Linked DNA regions of Homo sapiens: all the other regions are linked to region 3. Evidence: fine-mapped expression QTL. A gene starts in region 3. Each other region holds a variant in brackets. All regions are shown on one strand. Distances are from middle to middle.

The links.
Region 1: its variant is fine-mapped to the expression of ADRA2B in aorta (GTEx, PIP above 0.99). The same link has a PIP of 0.9 or more in cerebellar hemisphere and lung.
Region 2: its variant is fine-mapped to the expression of ADRA2B in subcutaneous fat (TwinsUK, PIP 0.95).

The regions. Positions count from the first base shown.
Region 1 is chr2:96,069,239-96,076,233 of GRCh38, reverse strand. No RefSeq gene overlaps it. Among named protein-coding and RNA genes, the nearest start is that of GPAT2, 38 kb to the right of the region's middle. The variant C/G (reference allele first, on the strand shown) is at 3,397.
Region 2 is chr2:96,226,546-96,233,540 of GRCh38, reverse strand. All of the region lies in intron 1 of STARD7-AS1 (STARD7 antisense RNA 1), which reads right to left. Among named protein-coding and RNA genes, the nearest start is that of SNORA112, 15 kb to the right of the region's middle. The variant A/CA (reference allele first, on the strand shown) is at 2,711.
Region 3 is chr2:96,113,441-96,120,435 of GRCh38, reverse strand. ADRA2B (adrenoceptor alpha 2B) reads left to right here and starts at 3,865. Exons shown (of 1, transcript NM_000682.7): 1 at 3,865-6,995. The coding sequence starts at 4,287. The coding sequence ends at 5,639. RefSeq lists silencers at 112-161, 3,036-3,105, 3,146-3,605, 3,616-3,775, 3,876-3,965.

The DNA.
Region 1 (6,995 bases), 44 kb after region 3:
GTGCAATCTTCTGGAAAAGAAAAAACTGTGGAGACAGCAAAGAGTTCACAGGTTGACAGAGGTTAGGAGGGAGGGAGAGATGAACAGATGGAGCATCCTGGATTTTTAGGGCAGTGAAATTACTCTGTGTGATACTATAATGGTGGCTACATGTCATTATACCTCTGTCAAAACCCATAGAAAGCACGCCACCAAGAGTGAATCTTAATGTTAAATATTGACTTTGGTTGATAATGATGTGAATGGGACTTAATTGTAAGAAAAGTACCACTCAGGTGGGCAATGTTGATAGTAGGGGAGGTTGTGTATGTGTGGGACATAGGGTATAAGGAAACTCTCTGTACTTTCTGCTCAATTTTGCTGTGAACCTAAAACAGCTCTGAAAAATAAAATCTATTAACAAAGAAATAAACAATAATGTCTATTAACAACAAGCAAATGTAAACTCTAGATCTGAAAAATACAGAATCTAAAATGAAGTATTCACTTCATAGGGTTGACAACAGATTGGATACAAGCAGAAGAAAGGATCAATAACTCAAAGGCAGGTCAAACTAAGTTCTCCAAGTGGAAGCACGGAAAGAAACTAACAACAACAGAGCAGAGGAAGGGTCAGCAAACTGTGGGCCCATGGACCAAATTTGACCTGCTGCCTGCTATTGTAAATAAAGTTTTATGGATCCCAGACATACCAGACATTGTTTACAGAAAAGCTGAGTAGTTGTGACAGAGACCATATGGCCTGCAAAGCCTATATTAAGTCTTGCCCTTTAGAAAAGTTTGGCAACCCTTGTAATAGAGCATCAAAAGCTATCAAACAATATATTAAATGGCATGTTGTATGTATAACTGGAGTCCCAGAAGGAGAGGAGAATGAGAATGGAGCTTGACTAAATATTTGAAGAGAGAATGACTGAACACATCTTCATAAAACTCATGAAAGACGTCAACCCACAGATTCAAGAATAAAAATAACCCTAAACTACATAAATACAAGAAAGGCTATACCTAGAGATATCATCATCAAGCTAGAAAACAAAGGCAAAAAGATCTTAAAATCATCCAGAAAATACAATCAGGTTACATTTAGGGGAAACACAATAAGAATTGTAGCTGATTTCTCACTAGAAACAAAGGCAGCTAGAAGACAATTGAAGAACCACTTTAAAGGGTCTCAAGGAAAAATTCTGTGAGCTTAGAAGTCTATATCCAATAAAAATGTCATTCAAAAATAAAGGCCAAATTAAGGCATTTTTAGACAAACGAAAGCTTAAGGAATTCATTGCAACACTATAAATAGTACTAAAGGAATTTCTGAGGCCAAAGGGAGAGAATCTCAGATGGAAGCCCAGACTACCCAAAAGAAATAGAAAGGACCAGGAATTGTAAATATGTGGAAAATATAAGAGATTATCTTTTGTTTTTTACTTTAAAAAACACTTTTGGCCATTTAAAGCAAAATAATAAGCATGTGGAAGTAAAATATATAATAACACTAGTGCAACAGGCAGAGAGAGATCAATACAATTACACCGTTGCAAGTTCCTTTGATTATCTGGATGCAAGTGATGGTTACAGGTGTATGCATTTGTAGAAATGTATCAAGCTATAGCTTAGGATTTGTGTACTTCACTATATGTTAATTAGCCTGCACTTTAGTAAAGTACTGTTACCAAAGAAAGAGAATGGACACGACAGAGCTCTGTAGCCAAGTCAGGACTCACAGATGGAACAAATATTTATGTTTGTCACGGGAGAGTCAGGGCCTCCTGCTTGGCAGAGGCTGCTGAGAGCTGAAGATGGGGTTGGCTGGGGCTCAGCCCACCTCCTGCATTGCCGAGGAGGCAGCGTTTTCCTCTGTGACTGACTCCTGCTGGAGCCTTGGCTTTGTGGAGATCTGTGACAGGGCTTGGCCCATGAGATGAAGAGCCCAGAGGCCTGGCCTTCCTGTCCTGAGCCTGGTCCGCTTCTGGGGACCCTCTCCTACGGTGGAGAAAACCAGAATGTCATCCTGGAAGGGACTTCTGATTCAAGTACTTGATGGCTGCCATTTTATAGAGATGGGCTCTGGGGCTCAGAGTGAATACATTCTAGAAACTGGACTGGAAACCAGATCTCCTCTTTATACTGTAGCAGCTGTCTTGGGCCCATTCAAGCTTGTCCTTCCTAGGTCCACAGGTATTCCTCTCTCTGCTCTTTTCTTTAAAATCCTCATGCTACTAATGCTAAATAACTGCTGATAAAACTAATTCATACTAAAGTGTGAGTGACTGATTCCCTGTTAAAGTCTCCCCAAGAAAGGCATGCGTAGTAACCATGTCCAAGAAACCATTCTAATGGTGTGATCCCATTCAGCACCCAGGCTGAGGAGAAATGTTTTGGGATGAAGCAGGCAGAGGTGAGAAAGGGTTGCCAGTCTGGAGCTAGCATGGTGCAGGAGAGAAGGCAGGGTTCTGTCTTTGCCCGAACTCATCGGCTCATCTTGGCCACATTCTCTGACTTCCTTGGGTCTGTTTCTTCTGCTGTTAAATGAAGGCTGGACACTCAGATAGCCCAGGGCCCTTTAGCTCTCATGTCCCAGGCCTGTTCACTTACAGCCTTCTGGAGCTTTTGCTTTACAATAAGCAGTCCTCTGATCATCACTGGCTCTCACAATGTTCTTAGAAGCAGATTAGAGGCTTGGGTGTGTGGGTCTCTGTGTCACAGGTGAGGAAATGGGGCAGAGAGGGCAGGTCAGTGGCCCGGGGCCACTCTGTGGGATGCCACTGCATTCCTCCTCCTCCCCCAGCTGCCTCATGAACGGGGCTAAAGAAGCCTCCCCTTCCTGACAGAACCCACTGCTTCTCTGGTCAGCCCAGGACAGTGGAGCCCTCCCTGGGCAGGGGTGGGGGTGCAGAGCCAGCCCCACTCAAGTCCCCACGGGAAAGTACGGGGCCCCTGCCAGAGGAGCCCTTCCCTTTCATTCCTCCCCAATAGGAGGCCACCCCCAATGCCTTCACCAGCTCCCAAATGCCTCTCACCTCTGCACCTTCGAGCCTTTGCCCAGGAGCCCCCTCTGCCTGGATGTCCTTCCCTTCTTCTCTGCCCAGCACACTCCCACCAAAGCGGCCCCCCAAGGCAGGATGCAGCTCATGCTCCCAGTGGTGGACGGCTGTTCCGATCTTACCTAAGGGTTTCGCTTGCTGCCTGCAGCCTCCTCTGGGGGAAGGAGCATGTCTTGTCTCTCCTGTCCACCCACTTCCCAATGCACGGTTCCTGGCATGCAGCTGGGTCAGGACACGCGTTCTGAGCGCTTCAGAGGGCTGGTGAGGCACAGTGTCCCTGAATGTCCTCAGAGTCCAGGTCTGGCCCAGCCACATTCTTGAGGATGGGAAGCTAGAGAGGTAGAAATATCTC[C/G]GCTGAACGCCCAGCTGGTCACATAAGAGCTGGGGAACTGGACACTTCACCTAATGCCTCCGAGCCTCACCTTAACATGGGAGCTCAGCTCCTCCTCTGCAGCCTGTGGTAGTGAGCAGGTGAGGTCGTGTATGTGAAGACTTAGACCACATATGCCTGGGACATAGGACATGCTCAACTTCTTCCTGTTAATCCTCCTCTTACATCCGAGGGACCCTGGCCAGGCCACCCGGCGTCCTCTGTTTTCTCAAGGTCAAGGAGAATAATAGCCCCAGCACTGCCCAGCCCCTAAGGGATGGTGAGGGTGCAGATGGTTCATGATGACAGTTCCTGGGAGCTACAGGAGAAGTGAGGAGGGCTGGTGGGCCTGTGGCAACTTCCCACAGCTCACAGGAGGGCTGGAGCTGACCCGGCTGCTCCGCTCTGCTGCAGAAACAACAGCTGCTGCTCCCTGGGCTCAGGGCTGTGTCTGCAGTAGCCTGGGGACACCAGAGCCCCAACCCAGTGGAGCCCCTGCCCTGCTGTTCTGTGTTCTCCAGTGCGAGCCCCAAGCTGGTGTGCATCTCTCTTGCTTTAGGGATATAAAACTGTTTCATTTCCAAAATAAAGAGAACAAAGCCTCCTTGTGGCAACAATTATGCAGTCATAAGAGGAGGCTTAATGGGCGTTCATTAAGAGTTGCACTCAGGGAATGACAGCTCTGACAGCTGCCAGTACTGACTGTCGTAGAGTCATGGCGCTGTTCCCTGAGGGAGCATCACCCCCTCCCCTGAGCTGCAGCTGCTCCTCCGGGAATGGGGCTCACAGGAAAAAAGACCCAAGAGCAGACCTCTGGAGCCGCCAGAGCTAGTCTGGTCTCTCAGAGCGGCCTCGGATGGTGTGTGGCCACATTTGTGGCACTTGCTGTCTGATCAGAGAAGCAATGAACATATGCCAGGCCGGGATCTCACAGGCATCTAGGCTGGTCTGACAAATCCTTGGCCACATCTGACCACGTCTGTGCCCGTCATGCTGTGTTTGTTCCTACTGAGCCAAGGCCGTATCAGAATTCTTCAAATAGCCCTCCAGACAGCCAGGCTAGGGTGGCCAGGGAGTGGTGACTGGCTCTACATTCCCCATAGAGTCCATTTCGCCTCATCCCTGGATGGATGTCACCCTGGGACCCAGAAAGGGGTGTGACCTGAGGAACAGCCATTGCCAGATCCCGGTGCCCTCGCACCCTGGCGTGGTTGGGTCTGTTTCCACAGCTCACTTGTCCATGGGGAGAAAGCAGTGATTCAGGCCTGGCTGAGGGACTTGGACAGACACTCAGGATCTTCCTCCTGAGCCCTGTTTCCTCTTGCTCAGGAGAGGAGTTTGAATTGCTCCCTCATTCCCCTAGAAGTCCATGTAAGCCCATGCCACTGCCAGGTGGAGCTCCAGGCTCATGATTCAGGAAGGCCAGAGCGCCATACGCCCCTTTATTCCTGTCCCAGCTGTGTCTCTCCTGGTTGATCTGTGCCTCGAAAGCATAAGGATTCATCCGTTTTAGTCCCATGGATGGAAGCCGGCCCCTCTGCATAGAGTGGCACGGGGCAGGAGTTTGAACACCCCTAGGAGTATGGCACAGGTCACCTGTGGGGTGAAGACATAAGTGTGTTTGCAAGTGGGTGGGTGGCTGGGAACTGGAGGATTTGGCTGAGCCAAAGATGGGCTGGGTTTGCCCATCTTAGGGTTGTTGGCCTGGAGCTCAAATTGCTCTGTGATGGAGGAGGGTGACTCTGGAGCTCTCCCAGGCAAGGGCAGGGGCAGAGGGACAGAGAGAAGAAAGGGACGTGAGAAAGACAACACACAACCCCTTCCATGAGGCTCGCTGGATCTTCAGTCGTGTGGTTGGAACTCCGGGAGATGTCCCCTGAGCCCGGGAAGCAGGATAGGTCAGGAGAAGGCCCTAAGGAAAGGCTTTGGATACTACCTGTGGCCACACTCTCCTACAGGCCAAGGAGAGACAGACAGAGAGGGGCTCTGGGCAGCCAGTAGCACTGAACTCTCAGGGTCGAGGTCTGGGGCAATATCCGGGCTCCACTTTCATTCCGTAATGGCAACATAATAGAGTGCAGAGTGCTGGCTAAAGAGTGGGTAGCTTCCCTGGTTCAAGGCCAGCCTCTGGCAGCTGCCACTTTTTTTCAGTTGAGCAGTGGCCAACCTGCACAACAGGCCCCTTACCACATGCCAACACTGGGTACAGCCTGTGTGGAGGGGTCTTGGGAACCCGAATGTTGAATGCACCCCTTTGCTCTGTCTCTCGCTGGGGAACCCTCACTGGGCTGTCTTGGTTTGTGCTCCGTTCACTGGGCCAGCTCCTCCCTATGCCCCCAGCCCAGCCTTGGCACTGCATCTGGAACTCAGATGGGGGATGATCGCAGCTTTCAGGAAACTGCCCAGTGACAGGACTGGGCATCGTGCAGGGGGTGACTCATGTTCTAGTCTGTAGTTTTGACAGAATGCTTCTAAAAGTTTCCTGAGAAAAGGTGCAATAGAAGAAAGGATGTCTGCAAATGTCTTTAATGCATCCCCACATTTAGCCGAATGAGTGGCTGCCGTATTCAACGACGTCTGAGCTGCAGACAGCTGTCTCCAGAGGGGCTGGTGGGTTGACCCCTTTGGCTTCCAGTTGCTAGGCAGCTCCCCTGACTTCGTGGATACCCCCCTCTCCCCCACTCACCACCTCTGCTGCAACATCCTGTCACTCAGGAACTCCAACAATCCAACCCCATCTCTACTAAAAACAAAAAATTAGCTGGGTGTGGTGGCAGACGCCTGTAATCCCAGCTGCTTGGGAGGCTGAGTCAGCAGAATTGCCTGAACCTTGGAGGTGGAGGTTGCAGTGAGGTGAGATCGCGCCACTGCACTCTGGCCTGGGCAACAGCCTAAAACTCTATCTCAAAAAAGAAACTCCAGCAATCCTCACAAACAAACAAGATAACAGGCAAAGAACATGCTAACAAACGGCAGCTTTGATGACCAGGAAAGCGCATGGAGCTCCCATTCCAGGAATGTATTTTAACTGGACGTGCCTCCTTGGGAAAAAAAGAACAAAAAAGAAACTCCTAGTAAGAAAAAAAGCCCCGCCCTGCTTCTGACAGACTCAGCTCTGGCAGCAGCTGCTCCTGTTTGGAAAGACCTACATCCCAGGAATATAAATTTTTTATTGTGATTTTATTTTATTTGTTGATGCAGAGGGTTTTTATTTTATCTTTTGAACCAGTAGCAGCAGCGGGAGAGGGAGAAATGGGGGAGCTGCAAAGCTGGCTGGGGGTGTTCTCCCTCCTCTGCTGGGGGTGGAGATGACACCTGAGCCCCCTTCGCTGGGCTTGCTGGCCACACAGGCTCCTGTCTCTGCCATGGTGTGGGGACTTGTGGTATTGGGAGGGAAAGAAGAAGTAAAGAGGGGGTGGGGGCAGAGGGGCAGGGGTGTCCAGGGGTGTTTGGCCCAGAGCAAACCCCTGGTGCTCCCACATTCCGGGTCCGGGTCATCTGCTAGGACAGGCACAGTGGGAGGGGTGTGCCCCCTGCCCATCCTTGGGGAGGTTCGAATGGACTAGATCCAGTCCAACCCC
Region 2 (6,995 bases), 110 kb before region 3:
CCGGGCGAGGTGGCTCACGCCTGTAATCCCAGCACTTTGGAAGGCTGAGGCAGGTGGATCACCTGAGGTCGGAGTTCGAGACCAGCCTGACCAACATGGAGAAACCCCATCTCTACTAAAAATACAAAATTAGCTGGGCATGGTGGTACATGCCTGAAATCCTAGCTACTTGGGAGGCTGAGGCAGGAGAATTGCTTGAACCCGGGAGGCAGAGGTTGCAGTGAGCTGAGATAGTGCCATTGCACTCTAGCCTGGGCAAAAAGAGCGAAACTCTATTCAAAAAAAAAAAAAAAAAGACAAACCATATAAATGTTAGCCTCTACCTATAAAAGCAGTGAGCCAAAAGCAGCACTGCATTCCTGGAGAGATTGCAGAAATTAGTTCCACCACTAATCAATGATCTGAAAGACACAGAGCTGATGATTTCCATTCAGCTTAGCTCTCTAGCCTGTGCAGATCCAAGATGGATCCAAGAGAATGGCGTGGATTATTATAAACTCAATTAGGTTGTGACTCCAATTGCAGCTGCTATTCTAGGTGTGCCTTCATTCATGAAGCAAATCAATGCATCCCTTGGAGCAAAGTATGCAGCTATTGATCTGATGAATGCTTTTTTCCTCAGCAATTTTTAGTAAAGACCATCAAAAGCAGTTTGCTTTGAGCTGACAGGGCTAGCAATACCTATTCGTTATCCAAACTCAGGACTGTATCAATTCGCAGTCATCTGTCATCATCTAGTTTGTGGAGACCTTGTCCTCTTCTCTACTCCACAGGACATCACATTCATCTAATGTGTTGATAATATGCTGATTAGAAGTAGTAACTATTCTAGCCACCTTGACGAGATATATGTATGCCAGAGGGTGGGAAATAAATCCCACAAACATTCAGTGAACCTTCTGGGGGGCCTAACGGTCTGGGGCATGTTAAGCTGGGCCCTACTACCACTAAGAGGCACAATGCCCAGTGGTTTTGGATTTTGAAGGCAATGTATACCTCATTTCAATGTTCTTCTCTGACCCATTTTCTGAATAACTTAAAAGGCTATCAGTTTTGAGTGGGGCCCAGAAGAAAAGATGACATTGTCATGACAGTTCCTGACTTATGAAGGTTCAACTTAATTTTTTTTACTTCAGCAATGATGCGAAAGCGATGTGCATTCAGTAGAAGCTGTATTTCGAATGCTGGATTTTGATCTTTCCCTAGGTGAGTGATATGTGGTGCGATGCTCTCTCGTGATGCTGGGCAGCAGCAGTGAGTGCAGCTCTGCCAGCCACAGGATCACTAGGCTGGATGACCAATATTCTACAGTGGGCTGTATGGACGGATCACTTTGCCCAACTGTAGGCCAATGTAAGTGTTCTGGGCATGTTTGAGGTAGGCTAGGCTAAGCTATGATGTCCTGTAGGTTAGGTGTATTCAGGGCATTTGCAACTCAGGATATTTTCTTTTCTTTTTCTGAGATAGGGTCTCACTTTGTCTCACCAGGCTGGACTGCAGTGGTGCAAGCATGGCTCTCTGCACCCTCGATCTCCTGGGCTCAAGCCATTCTCCCACCTCAGCCTCCCACGTAGCTGGGACTACAGGCGTGTGCCTCCATGCCTGGCTAACTTAAAAAATTTTTTTTTTTGTAGAGACAATGTCTTGCTATGTTGCCCAGACTGGTTTCACACTTCTGGGCTTAAGTGATCCTCCAGCTTTGGCCTCCCAAAGGGTGGGGATTACAGGCATGAGCCATTGCACCTGGCGAAATTTTTATAATTGTATGTTGTCTCAGCATCTGTTTTAAATACAGGTTAGCCTTTCTCATATAAAAAGCAGGACTCAGTCACCCTTGACACATTGTCCAGTTCTCCACCTCCTCCTAGCTCCTCAGTGTGATCAATCTAGATACCTGCCTTATACAACCACCTCCTGATGACCACTTCCCTGTGGACACCTAGATACTACATATGTGACTTGCTCCAACCCCCTCGCCCCACATGGACTGCCCAGACATGCTGCAGTGACCACCTCTGAGTCACAGCATGACCCCATGATACTTGTGCCTGCTTGCTCTAAACTTACCAGTTAGAACTCCTATCGGATGCAGTGGCTCACGCCTGTAATCCCAACACTGTGAGTGGCCAAGGTGGGAGGACTGCTTGAGACAAGGAGTTTGAGACAGCCTGGGCAACATAGCGAGACCTTGTCTCTACCAAAAATAATTTAAAAATTAGCTAGGCATGGTGGCGCACTCCTGTGATCCCAGATATTTAGGAGGCTGAGGTGGGAGGACTGCTTGAGCCTGAGAGGTAGAGGGTGCAGTGAGCTGTGATAGCGCCAGTGCACTCCAGCCTGGGCAACAGAATGAGACCATTTCAAAAAACCAAAAACCCGCTGGGCATGGCAGCTCATGCCTGTAATCCCAGCACTTTGGGAGGCCGAGGCAGGAGGATCACCTGAGGTCAGGAGTTTGAGACCAGCCTGGGGAACATGGCAAAACCATGTCTCTACTAAAAATACACAAATTAGCCAGGTGTGGTGGTGGGCACCTGTAATCCCAGCTACTCGGGAGGCAGAGGCATGAGAATCACTTGACCCTGCAAGGCGGAGGTTGCAGTGAGCCAAGATTGCACCACTGCCTTCCAGCCTAGGTGACAGGGTGAGACTCTGTCTCAAAAAAAAAACAACAACAAAAAAAACAAAACCAAAAACCAACCCCCCCCCC[A/CA]CCAAAAACAAACAAACAAACAAAAAAAACAAAAACTCCTCTCAGGAAACCTGCTTGGGTAATGGCCTGGACCCAATACAGACATTAGCCCTCAGGCCCCTTGCTTTCTCTCTCATTCCCTGCTCCCCAGCTAAGCACGTGTGTCCTGGCCAGCTCTCTCCCCACTGGCCCTGAGAGGCGTGCTGCCCTCTTCTCTGTAAGAGCTCTGTAAGCAATACACTGCTTCTGTTACTTCATGTGTTTTGCTGTGTTGCCTCCTCTGCAACTCACCTGACCATCATACCTGAACCCAACTCTCATTCCATAGAGGGTTCTCCTACAGAGTGGCTATCTTGGTAGGAATAAACTGGACACAAGTCAGACAAGAGCCACACAGGTGTCTGCCAGTATCAACAAGTTTCCTGTGAGACGGACACCTGGTCATGGGTCTGACACTTAGGAATTAGGCCATCTGCCAGATAATGAAGTATCCTGTCAATGGCGCACTGCAAACATCCATGGCCAGCTCTCCTGGGGCCCTGGAGTCAGGACAGGGCTAGAGTTTACAGCCACTCTCCAGAAAGAGGCCTCAAGATGAAATCAGAAGAAACACAATACTATCTTCTGCAGGTAACTATTCTCCTTTTGAGATACAGCTTCGAGCATGTCACTTGGCCCTAGTGGACACTAAAGCCCTTGGCTGTGGGCCACCAAATTATCAAGTGTCCTGAGCTAAGCCTAAATATCATTATTTATTAATGATAAATTAAATTGGGTATTATATGACTCATCAAGCCAGAAAGTTGCACTCCATCTACTTAATGATGGAGTCATTATGAAATGGAAATGGTATAAATGAGATTGGGTCTGAGCAGGTCCTAAATGCAGAAGCAAGTTCTCTGAGTAACTACTCCTGCTACATTGCCTATTCTCTCTCAACCCACATCTATGGCCTCATGGGAAATCACCTATCACCAGTTGACCAAGGAGGTAAAAATTAAAAAAAAAAATTCAAGTCTGGCTGGGCACGGTGGCTTACATTTTATAATCTCAGCACTTTGGGAGGCCCAGCCGGAAGGACTGCTTGAGCCCAGTAGTTCGAGAACAGCCTGAGCAACATGGTAAGATCCCACCTATACAAAATAATAATAATAATAATAATAATAATAATAGCCGGGTGCAGTGGCATGCACCTGTGATCCCAGCTACTTGGGAGGCTGAAGCAGGAGGACCACTGGGGCCTAGGAGGTTGAGGCTGAAGTGCAGTGGTGATCGTGCCACTGCACTTCAGCCTGGGCGACAGTGAGACCCTGCCTAAGGAAAAAAAAAAAAAATTCAAGTCTGGTTCCTTGTTACAGATGTTTCTGCATCACATATTGTTATAACCCCACTCAAGGTGGTCCTGAGAACAGTGGTCAAAGGAAATCTTCCGAGTGGGCAAAACTTTGATTGGTGCATGTGGTTGCTCATTTTACCTAGAAGGAGAGATGGTCAGAGTTGTAGCTCTACATTAGAGAAACATGATTGGAAAAGGGTAAAAGTTTGAATGCTTTGTCATTAAAACTGGGAACAAGTGAAGGGTGTCTACTCTCACTACTTCTATCCAACATTGTATTGAAGGTTCTAGTCAGTGAAATAAAGCAAGAAAAAGAAACAAGTACAGTGCTATGGCTTGAATGTCCTCTCCAAAACTCATGTTGAAACTTGATCCCCAATGTGGCAGTGTTGAGAGGTGGGGCCTTTGAGGGTGATTGGATCAAGAGGGTTCTACCCCCATGAATAGATTAATTCATAGATCAGTATATTAAAGGGTTAATGAATTAATGGGTTATCATCAGAGTGAAACTAGTGACTTTATAAGAGGAAGAGAGACGTGAGCATAGCACATTAGTACGTTCAGCCCCCTTGCCATGGGACACCCTGTGGCCACCTCAGGACTCGGTAGAGTCCCCATCAACAAGAAGGCTCTCACCAGATATGCCCCCTCAACCTTGGACTTCTGAGAACTCCATAACTATAAGAAACAAATCTTTTTTCTTTTTTTCCCTTTAAAAATGTGTATAAATATAAGGGATACAAGTGCAGTTGAGTCACATGAATATACTGCATAGTGGTGAAGTCTAAGCTTTTAGTGTCACCATCACCTTCTTTTTCTCTATAAATCACCCAACTTCAGGTATTCTGTTATAAGCAACAGAAAATGGACTCATACATACAGACTGGAAAGGAAGAAGGAAAATTGTCTTTATTTGCAGAAAACATAATTGTGTATATAAAAAACTCTAAGGAATTTATCAAAATAAGCTATTAGAACTAATAGAAAGATTGTGGGACAGCTGGGCGCAGTAGCTCACACCTGTAATCCCAGCACATTGAGAGGCTGAGGCAGGTGGATCATTTGAGGTCAGGAGTTCGAGACCAGCATGGCCCATATGGTGAAACCCTGTCTCTACCAAAAATACAAAAATTAGCCGGGCATGGTGGCACATGCCTGTAATCCCAGCTACTCAGGAGGCTGAGGCAGGAGAATCGCTTGAGCCTGGGAGGCAGAGTTTGCGGTGAGCTGAGATCGTGCCATTGCACTCCAGTCTGGGTGACAGAGTGAGACCCTGTCTCAAAATAAATAAATAAATACATAAATAAATAAATAAATAAATAAATAAAAGAAATAAAGATTGTGGAATACAAAGTCAACATAAAAACTATTATATTTCAGCTGGGCACAGTGGCTCACACCTATAATCCCAGCACTGTGGGAGGCCAAGGCGGGCGGATCACCTGAGGTCAGGAGTTCGAGACCAGCCTGACCAACATGGAGAAACTCTGTCTCTACTGAAAAATACAAAACTAGCCGGGTGTGGTGGCACATGCCTGTAATCCCAGCTACTCAGGAGTCTGAGGGAGGAAAATCGCTTGAATCCGAGAGGTGGAGGTTGAGGTGAGCTGAAATCTCCTCCGTTGCACTCCAGCCTGGGCAAAACTCTGTCTCAAAAAACAAACAAACAAACAAACAAAAAAAACCTTTTATATTTCTATATACTAGTATTGAAGTATTGGAAATTGAAAAATTTAAAATACCACTTGCAACGGGACCAAAAATCAGAAAAACACTTAAGGATAAATTAAACAAAATCATGCAAGACCTATACACTAAAGCTAAAAAAATGGCTGAGAAAGTTAAATGGAGGAATAAATAAATAAGAGATATGCTATGTTCATGAATTGGGAAGACTCCATATTGCTAAGACATCAATTCTCCCCAAATTAAAGATTCAATGCAGTCCCAATCAAAATCTGATCAGGCATTTTTTTGGGGTAGAAATTGACAAGGTGACTCTAAAATGTATATGGGAACACAAGGGACTCAGAACAGGCAAAAAACGTTGCAAAACAAAAAACCAGGTTGGAGGACTTATATTTAATTGATTTCAGTACTTACTTTATAGCTACACTAATTACTTTATTAGCTACACTAATCAAGATAGGGTGAAACTGGCATAAGGACATATAGATCAATGAAACAGAGTCTAGAAGTAGGCCCACACATATATGGTGAACTGGGTTTCAACACAGTGCAAAGGCCTTTAGAATGGGGAGAAAAAGATAATCTTTTCAACAAATTATGTTACAGCAACGTGATATCTATATGGGGAAAAAATGAACCCCTATCCTTACCTGATATCATATATAAAAATTAGCTCAATATGTATCATTGATATAAGTGTAAAAATGAAAACCATAACATTTCTAAAGGAAAACATAGACCTCTGTTATGTTTGGATAAGCAAAGATTTCTTAGATAGGACACAAACCATTAAAATTTTTTTTTTGATGCACTGAACATCATCAAAATCAAATATTTGTATTCTTCAGACACAAGTAAGACAATGAAAAGGCAAGCCTGGAACTGGAGAAAATATTTTCAAAACATATCTGAATAAAGGGCTTGTATCCAGAATATATAAACAATTTAAATAATAAAAAATAATTTTTTTTAAATTTAAAAACGGGCAAAATATTTCAAAAAACAAGTCATAAAAGAGAAACAAATGGTCAATAAGCACATGAAAAAATGCTTAACAAGACTACTCAACAAAGAAGTACAAATTAAAATCACAATGAGGCCAGGCACAGTGGCTCACGCCTGTAATCCCAGCACTTTGGGAGGCTGAAGCAGGTGGAGGATTACCTGAGGTTAGGAGTTCGAGACCAGTCTGGCCAACATGGCGAAACCCTGTCTCTACCAAAAATATAAAAATTAGCTGGGTGTGGTGGCACATGCCTGCAATCCCAGCTACTTGGGAGG
Region 3 (6,995 bases):
GGCATAGGTTGAGGACTTGCCCTTCAATCAGCAGAGAGAGTTTGAGGCCAGATGCAGGTGGGCGGCGGGGGTGAGTTCCTGCCTGGACTTCCGTTTCCCCCTAAGTACCAGGCAGAGTCACAGCATGGTGGGGCGGAGGAGTGGCTGGGAGGTTGGAGAGGGAGGGAGGGATGCCGATTTTAACAAGTGGGAAAGTGAGCATACTAGGGAAGTTTGGAGATTTGTGGTCATGAATTTAGAGTGAGGCCAGTCGATGCAGAGAGTGTTTTGCTCCGGAAAGAGCAGCTGCTTGGTCAAAGGCAGGCAGTGGGTGGATGATTTAGGTTTGACCAGAGCTGGGGTTTTGTCAAGATCTTTATGCAGAGAGGACGACTGACTTCTATTATAGAGGACACGACCCAAGGATCTGGGAAGTGGGGAGGTTGGGGCATACAGGATGGTCTGGGGTTAAGAGTCCCAGGGACTGAAAGGCTGGTGGGGGGCGGGGTACATCTGGAGAAAGGTGGGGTGTGTGGCCTGATGGGGGTCTGTCCCAGTGGGCCCTTAGGGGAGGGAAGGCACCGTTGTGAGCTGCTGGAGCCCCAGCCCAGGAGATCTGGTGGCACCATCTCACCTCTCAGGCCTGGAGAAGTGTCTCCATGGCTTCCAACTAAGGTCTCACAGCCAGCAATGGGACAACAGTCTTGCCCTTCTTTGGAAAAGGTGGATCGCTTCCATGGCTAGGTCCTTTCCCCATGGCCCCTCTTCCCAAGGACATCCCTCCAGGGCACCCTCATTTGGGCTATCTGTCTTAGAATGCTCATGTGTATGAGTGCACTGTTGCCTGCTGCCACTGTCCCTCACGGCCAATGACCTTGTGCCAGGTACTGGGGACAGAGAAGGGATGTCCACTCTGATGGGCAGAGGTGATGCAACAAACCCATCAGAGAGCATCTTAGTACAGTGTGCTGAGTGTGAAAGTGGTGCCGCCTGGCGTCGAGGAACCTGGAGAATGGAGGTCCTCCCTCTGCCTGAGAGCCTGGTGACTGGTGAGTGGGCCTTGAAATGTGAGTAGGAGCCCACCAAACACAGAAGGAAGGGTGATAGGGCATCTCTATCAGAGCAAACAGCCCCAGGGAAGGTCTAGAGAGTGGAGACCCAGGGCACATTCAGAATCCAACACTGGCCTGGCGGGGCAGGGATGGAGGGCTGGGATCCAGGTTGTGCCCTGCTGCCCACTCCCCTGCTATGTGTCTGGGAAAGCTCCGGCTGCTCCTGCTGCTGGCTGTTGCTGGTCTGGGACTGAACTATGCCCGTTCCTGTGGAACAGGATGACAGTGGAAGGTCAGGTCTAGTTTGGGAAGAGCTGAAGGAAGCCTTGCTATGCTAGTAGGCTCCAATTCCTGCACCTGGCAGCCTCATGGGGCTGGTTGGAGCAGGCAAGGCCTGAAGGTGTGTGTGTGCGGGGGGAGATGGTGAGCCGCCGAGAGGAGCAGGAGCTGAGTTATGTTATGGCCTGCGTGGCCGTGGAGAGCTGGCGCACCCACGCTGCACTTGTCCATCCTGGGGTGGAGCCAGGAGGAGACAGCTGCAGTAGACGGTGACAGCCTGGGGCAGCGGTATGGATGCCAAGGCAGCTCCTGCTGCCCGGAGGGCACACATCTCCCAGGTCTGCCAGCTGTAGACTCTGTCCCTGGCTGTCCCCACCTGGCCTAGTGCCTAGCTGGCCCAATGAAAGATGCCTAGCAAGGCTTGGCACTCAGTAGACCCAAAGTTGTCACTTCTAGGAAGGCCCAGGTAAGCGTCCTCAGTGGGGACTTGCAGGGTGGGGAGGGCACACGGGCAACCCAGTCTCAGCTCCTGCAGCATCCCTTGAAGGAAGATGGGTCAGAAGACAAAGGCTGATGCTGGCTGCAGAGTCTGGGGAGCTGCTCACTGGCCCCCAGCCCAAGTGTGGTTGGAGACAGTGGAAAGGCGGTTCCTCCCGATGCCCATGTGGGCCTCTAGCAGGCCCAGACTGTGAAGGCCTTGGGAGCCCCTGGATAGGCAGGCACCTGCCTAAGTAGCTGCTCCCAGGCTCTCATGGCCACCCTCTGTCCTTCCTCAGGGAAAGAGCTACTGGCATCTCTCCATCACTGGTTATGTATGCCCAGGCGGCGCCCAGGCCCTGCCCAGCCCAGAGGGTGGGAAAGACACATCCAGGAAACTGTGTCTAGCAGAGTGGTCGGTTTTGAGCTGAAGCCTAGGGTTGGGGGTGGGAAGGAGGCTGATTGCCCTGTCCGAACCCAGCCCTGGCAGCATCCACCCCATGGGCTGTGGGCACTTGCACCTCACCAGAAGCTGGGGAGTCTGGCAGAATGACAGGGATGGGGGGATCAAGGAGGCACCTACTCCCAACACACCCCCGTGGCTGGGGGTGCTGGTCTGGGTACCTGAGACGGGGCACCTCCCACCTGAGCCTGGGGAGGCGCTAGACATTGTCCGTGGGCACTGAGAGGCCACGTGCTCTGCTCCCATGGAGGGAGCAGGGAGGAGAGGAGGTCCAGCAGGTTGGACGGGGCCTGGGGGAGCCCCACTGTCAGAGGTGGATTGGTGCTTATTTATACAGAGGATGCCTTGCAGAGTCGTGGGCTGTGAATAAGAGGCCTGGCTCGAGGCGGGGCTTATGACATTAGGGGCTCCAGAACCGGGGAAACATGCCCTCAGGGCTGCCCAGGCTGGTGCTGGTGGCGGTGTGGCAGGGAGAGTGAGTTGGGGCCCTGAGGGAGAACAGTTGCTCATAGCGCTTTGAAGGCGAGTGGGGGGCCTTAGTCTGAAGTTTCTTTTTACCCCAACCCTCTTTCCACTGTCACCCCCAGAAGGGCTTCAGTGTGTATGTGGGGCAGGACCGCAGCAGGGAGGGAGGGTCAACCCCTTCCCCCGGGGTCACTACAGAAGCGGAGGGACGCTCCTCTCTTCACGGCTGCCCCTGAGACCTGCTTTTTCTCGGAGCTGTGTGACAAAGTCCCCACCCTTTACTCCCCCACGGCAAGGAAGGGACCTCCCCTTCGCATTAGTCAAGGGGCGGCAGCTCGCCCTGTGCCCCGTACAAACCCTTGGCTGAATCGCAGTTGATGCTGTGATTCGAGTCCAAGCCAGTTTCCCTGTTACCTCCTTTGCCCTTAATGGAGGAAACTGAGGCAGCTGCGGAGACACAAGAAGCCGAAGTCCTAAGACCCAGGCTGCGAGCGCTGGCTCCGGGACCCGGGCTGCCGCTGACGGGCTGGGCCCGCGGGCGGCAGCAGGGGGCGCTCGCAGGCCGGGACGCGCCCTCCTCGCGCGGCGCTGGCCCGACGGAGCTGGTCCGCGAGGGGCAGCGCCTGGGAAAGGGTCGGGACCGGCTCCCCGCTCCCCGCTCCCCCACCTCTCCGCAGGGCGTCTCCACGGCCGAGCCGGGCGGGGTTGTGGTGTATTGCGACCCGGCGCCCCAGCCCCACGCCCGCCCTGCCCTCCCTGCGGGCTCCCGAGCGGCGGAAGGCAGAGCAGGGCGCACCGGCGCCGGGCCCAGCCCGGTTCCCCCGGGAGAAGTGTCCCGTCCCGGTGCCGGCCCGCGCGCTAGCTCCGCGTCCCGGCTCCCGGCACCCACCGACCCCTCCACAGCTGCGCGCGTCCTGCCTGGGGGCCGGAGACCCCGGCCGCCGGGCCCCTCCGCTCTCCCGAGGCGCGGCCGCCGGGAGGAAGGCAGGTAGAGGCGCTGGGCGGGGTCCGGGCGCGGGAAGTCCCGGGCTCACGCCTCCCGCGAAGCGCACCTTCAGCCCACCTCGGTCCGCCCACCGCCCCGCCTCCCGCCCGCTCCCGCGCCCGCCTCCAGTCTCCGCCTTCCTCCAGCCGCTCTCCCCGCTCCCCACTCCCCTGCAGGCGCGGCTGGGGCGAAAGCCTGCGAGCTGAGCGGGCGCAAGGTCCTCCGCGCCTCCTTTAAGAACCGGCCCAGCCCGGCCCGCGCCCCCAGAGCGTACGGCATCCGCGTGGCGGGAGGGCGCGACTTTCTCCGGTCCCGGGCGGGACGGGGACGGCGGCGGGACAACTTGGGAAACTTCTCTGGGGCGGACGGCAGGGACCCCGGGCACCGGTGGAGGAGGATGTAGGAGGGCGGCTGCTGGTCCTGGGTGTTCCCGACCTCCTAGGCCCCGCTCGTCCAGGCCATGGGGCTCCAGCGCCCTCGGCGCCGCCCGAGGGGCGACGCTCTTGTCTAGCCGAGCCGGGCAGCGCTGTCGTCCACGGTGCGCACTGGGCGGGCAGCGCTCCCTCTGCCCACCTCCCGCCCCGTCATGGACCACCAGGACCCCTACTCCGTGCAGGCCACAGCGGCCATAGCGGCGGCCATCACCTTCCTCATTCTCTTTACCATCTTCGGCAACGCTCTGGTCATCCTGGCTGTGTTGACCAGCCGCTCGCTGCGCGCCCCTCAGAACCTGTTCCTGGTGTCGCTGGCCGCCGCCGACATCCTGGTGGCCACGCTCATCATCCCTTTCTCGCTGGCCAACGAGCTGCTGGGCTACTGGTACTTCCGGCGCACGTGGTGCGAGGTGTACCTGGCGCTCGACGTGCTCTTCTGCACCTCGTCCATCGTGCACCTGTGCGCCATCAGCCTGGACCGCTACTGGGCCGTGAGCCGCGCGCTGGAGTACAACTCCAAGCGCACCCCGCGCCGCATCAAGTGCATCATCCTCACTGTGTGGCTCATCGCCGCCGTCATCTCGCTGCCGCCCCTCATCTACAAGGGCGACCAGGGCCCCCAGCCGCGCGGGCGCCCCCAGTGCAAGCTCAACCAGGAGGCCTGGTACATCCTGGCCTCCAGCATCGGATCTTTCTTTGCTCCTTGCCTCATCATGATCCTTGTCTACCTGCGCATCTACCTGATCGCCAAACGCAGCAACCGCAGAGGTCCCAGGGCCAAGGGGGGGCCTGGGCAGGGTGAGTCCAAGCAGCCCCGACCCGACCATGGTGGGGCTTTGGCCTCAGCCAAACTGCCAGCCCTGGCCTCTGTGGCTTCTGCCAGAGAGGTCAACGGACACTCGAAGTCCACTGGGGAGAAGGAGGAGGGGGAGACCCCTGAAGATACTGGGACCCGGGCCTTGCCACCCAGTTGGGCTGCCCTTCCCAACTCAGGCCAGGGCCAGAAGGAGGGTGTTTGTGGGGCATCTCCAGAGGATGAAGCTGAAGAGGAGGAAGAGGAGGAGGAGGAGGAGGAAGAGTGTGAACCCCAGGCAGTGCCAGTGTCTCCGGCCTCAGCTTGCAGCCCCCCGCTGCAGCAGCCACAGGGCTCCCGGGTGCTGGCCACCCTACGTGGCCAGGTGCTCCTGGGCAGGGGCGTGGGTGCTATAGGTGGGCAGTGGTGGCGTCGACGGGCGCAGCTGACCCGGGAGAAGCGCTTCACCTTCGTGCTGGCTGTGGTCATTGGCGTTTTTGTGCTCTGCTGGTTCCCCTTCTTCTTCAGCTACAGCCTGGGAGCCATCTGCCCGAAGCACTGCAAGGTGCCCCATGGCCTCTTCCAGTTCTTCTTCTGGATCGGCTACTGCAACAGCTCACTGAACCCTGTTATCTACACCATCTTCAACCAGGACTTCCGCCGTGCCTTCCGGAGGATCCTGTGCCGCCCGTGGACCCAGACGGCCTGGTGAGCCCGCCTGCGCTGCCCCTGTGGGGTTGGTGCGGTGGCGCCGGGGTCACCCTGCTTCTTGCCCTGCTGTGTGTGGCTGCCTCCCCTGGGCTTTCTGCTCCCTGCCCAGATCCTGTAGGCCTCATCTTAGGAACCCCTTGGGAGGGGTGGGCAGGGGGGCTGCTAGCAAGGGTCCCAGTGAAGCTTCCCCTTGCCGGCTTAGCTGTGGGGGACCCCTTCTCCACCCTCTCCCTGAGCACAGGCCGATGGAGGTGGTTCAAATCCTCTGGAACATAGCCAAGACCAGGAGAAGAGAGAGCACTTTCTTCCCAGAGCCCCATGCTCTCCAGACCAATGTCTGGGCTTCCCTTTCTTGAGGACCTTGTGTTCCTGGCAGGTCACTTGCTTGTGGTGTTTTCGTTTCTTTTTCATCTCCCCCCCACCCACAAAGAGCACGGAGCCAGCCTTCCACTTTTCCCAGTGGGGCCTGCTGCTGAGGGGGAGGAAGAAACGAAGACTGATCACCCACGCTAGGCACTCGCGGTCCCTGGCAGGCGCTGGGATGGGGGCTTATGGGGTGGCATCGTCTCTGGGCCCTCCTTTCCCCCTTTGCCTGTTTTCGGATCTGTGGTTCCTTTGAAAGCCAGAACAATGGATCGGCTTCCTTACCCAGCACCCCTCCGGTAGGTGGGTGGCCACGTGGATGCCTCGCTGGGGCGGTCTTGGAGGCCTGGTCTCTGCCTCGACGGGAGATCCCCGATCACTGGCATTCACCCCCTGCAAAAATCGGGGCGACAATAGCTCACTGCCTACTTGCTGCAGGGAGATGAAAGGCTTTGCAGAAAGCTTTGAGCTCTGTGGGGGAACACACTAGAGAACCAAAAATGTGATTATATGGTGATATAAAAATCCCTTTCCTCTGTGTTTACCACCACCTGTCTTCCTGTAGACTTTTGTTCTGTCCCTGGGGTGTGTGAATTCCTACCCCGAACTGGAAGCCGGGAGTGGCAGACAGAATCACTATTTCAAGTTAAAGGATCTCTTTGAGAATGTGTTCTTCTGGCTGCAAAGGTCTGAGTTATTACGCTACATGACAACGTTTCGACATTTCACCGGCAACACCAAGAGGGTTTTTAGTGGCTTGGGTCTCCCCAGTGGGGGATAAGTCTTTTGTCATCAAGGAGGCAAATTGTCTCCCCAAGACAGCTCAAAATATCCACACCTCGGCAACAGTCTAAGATGAGAGCCTGTGACAGGTGGCAGCGCCCCCAGGTGGGGTACTGGCATCAGAGCCTGGTGCGCCCCTAGGGGAGCCTCCCACTGGAGTGCCCGGCCAGGTCTCCAAGCCCCAAATGAGTCCTTGTGAACCACAACTGAT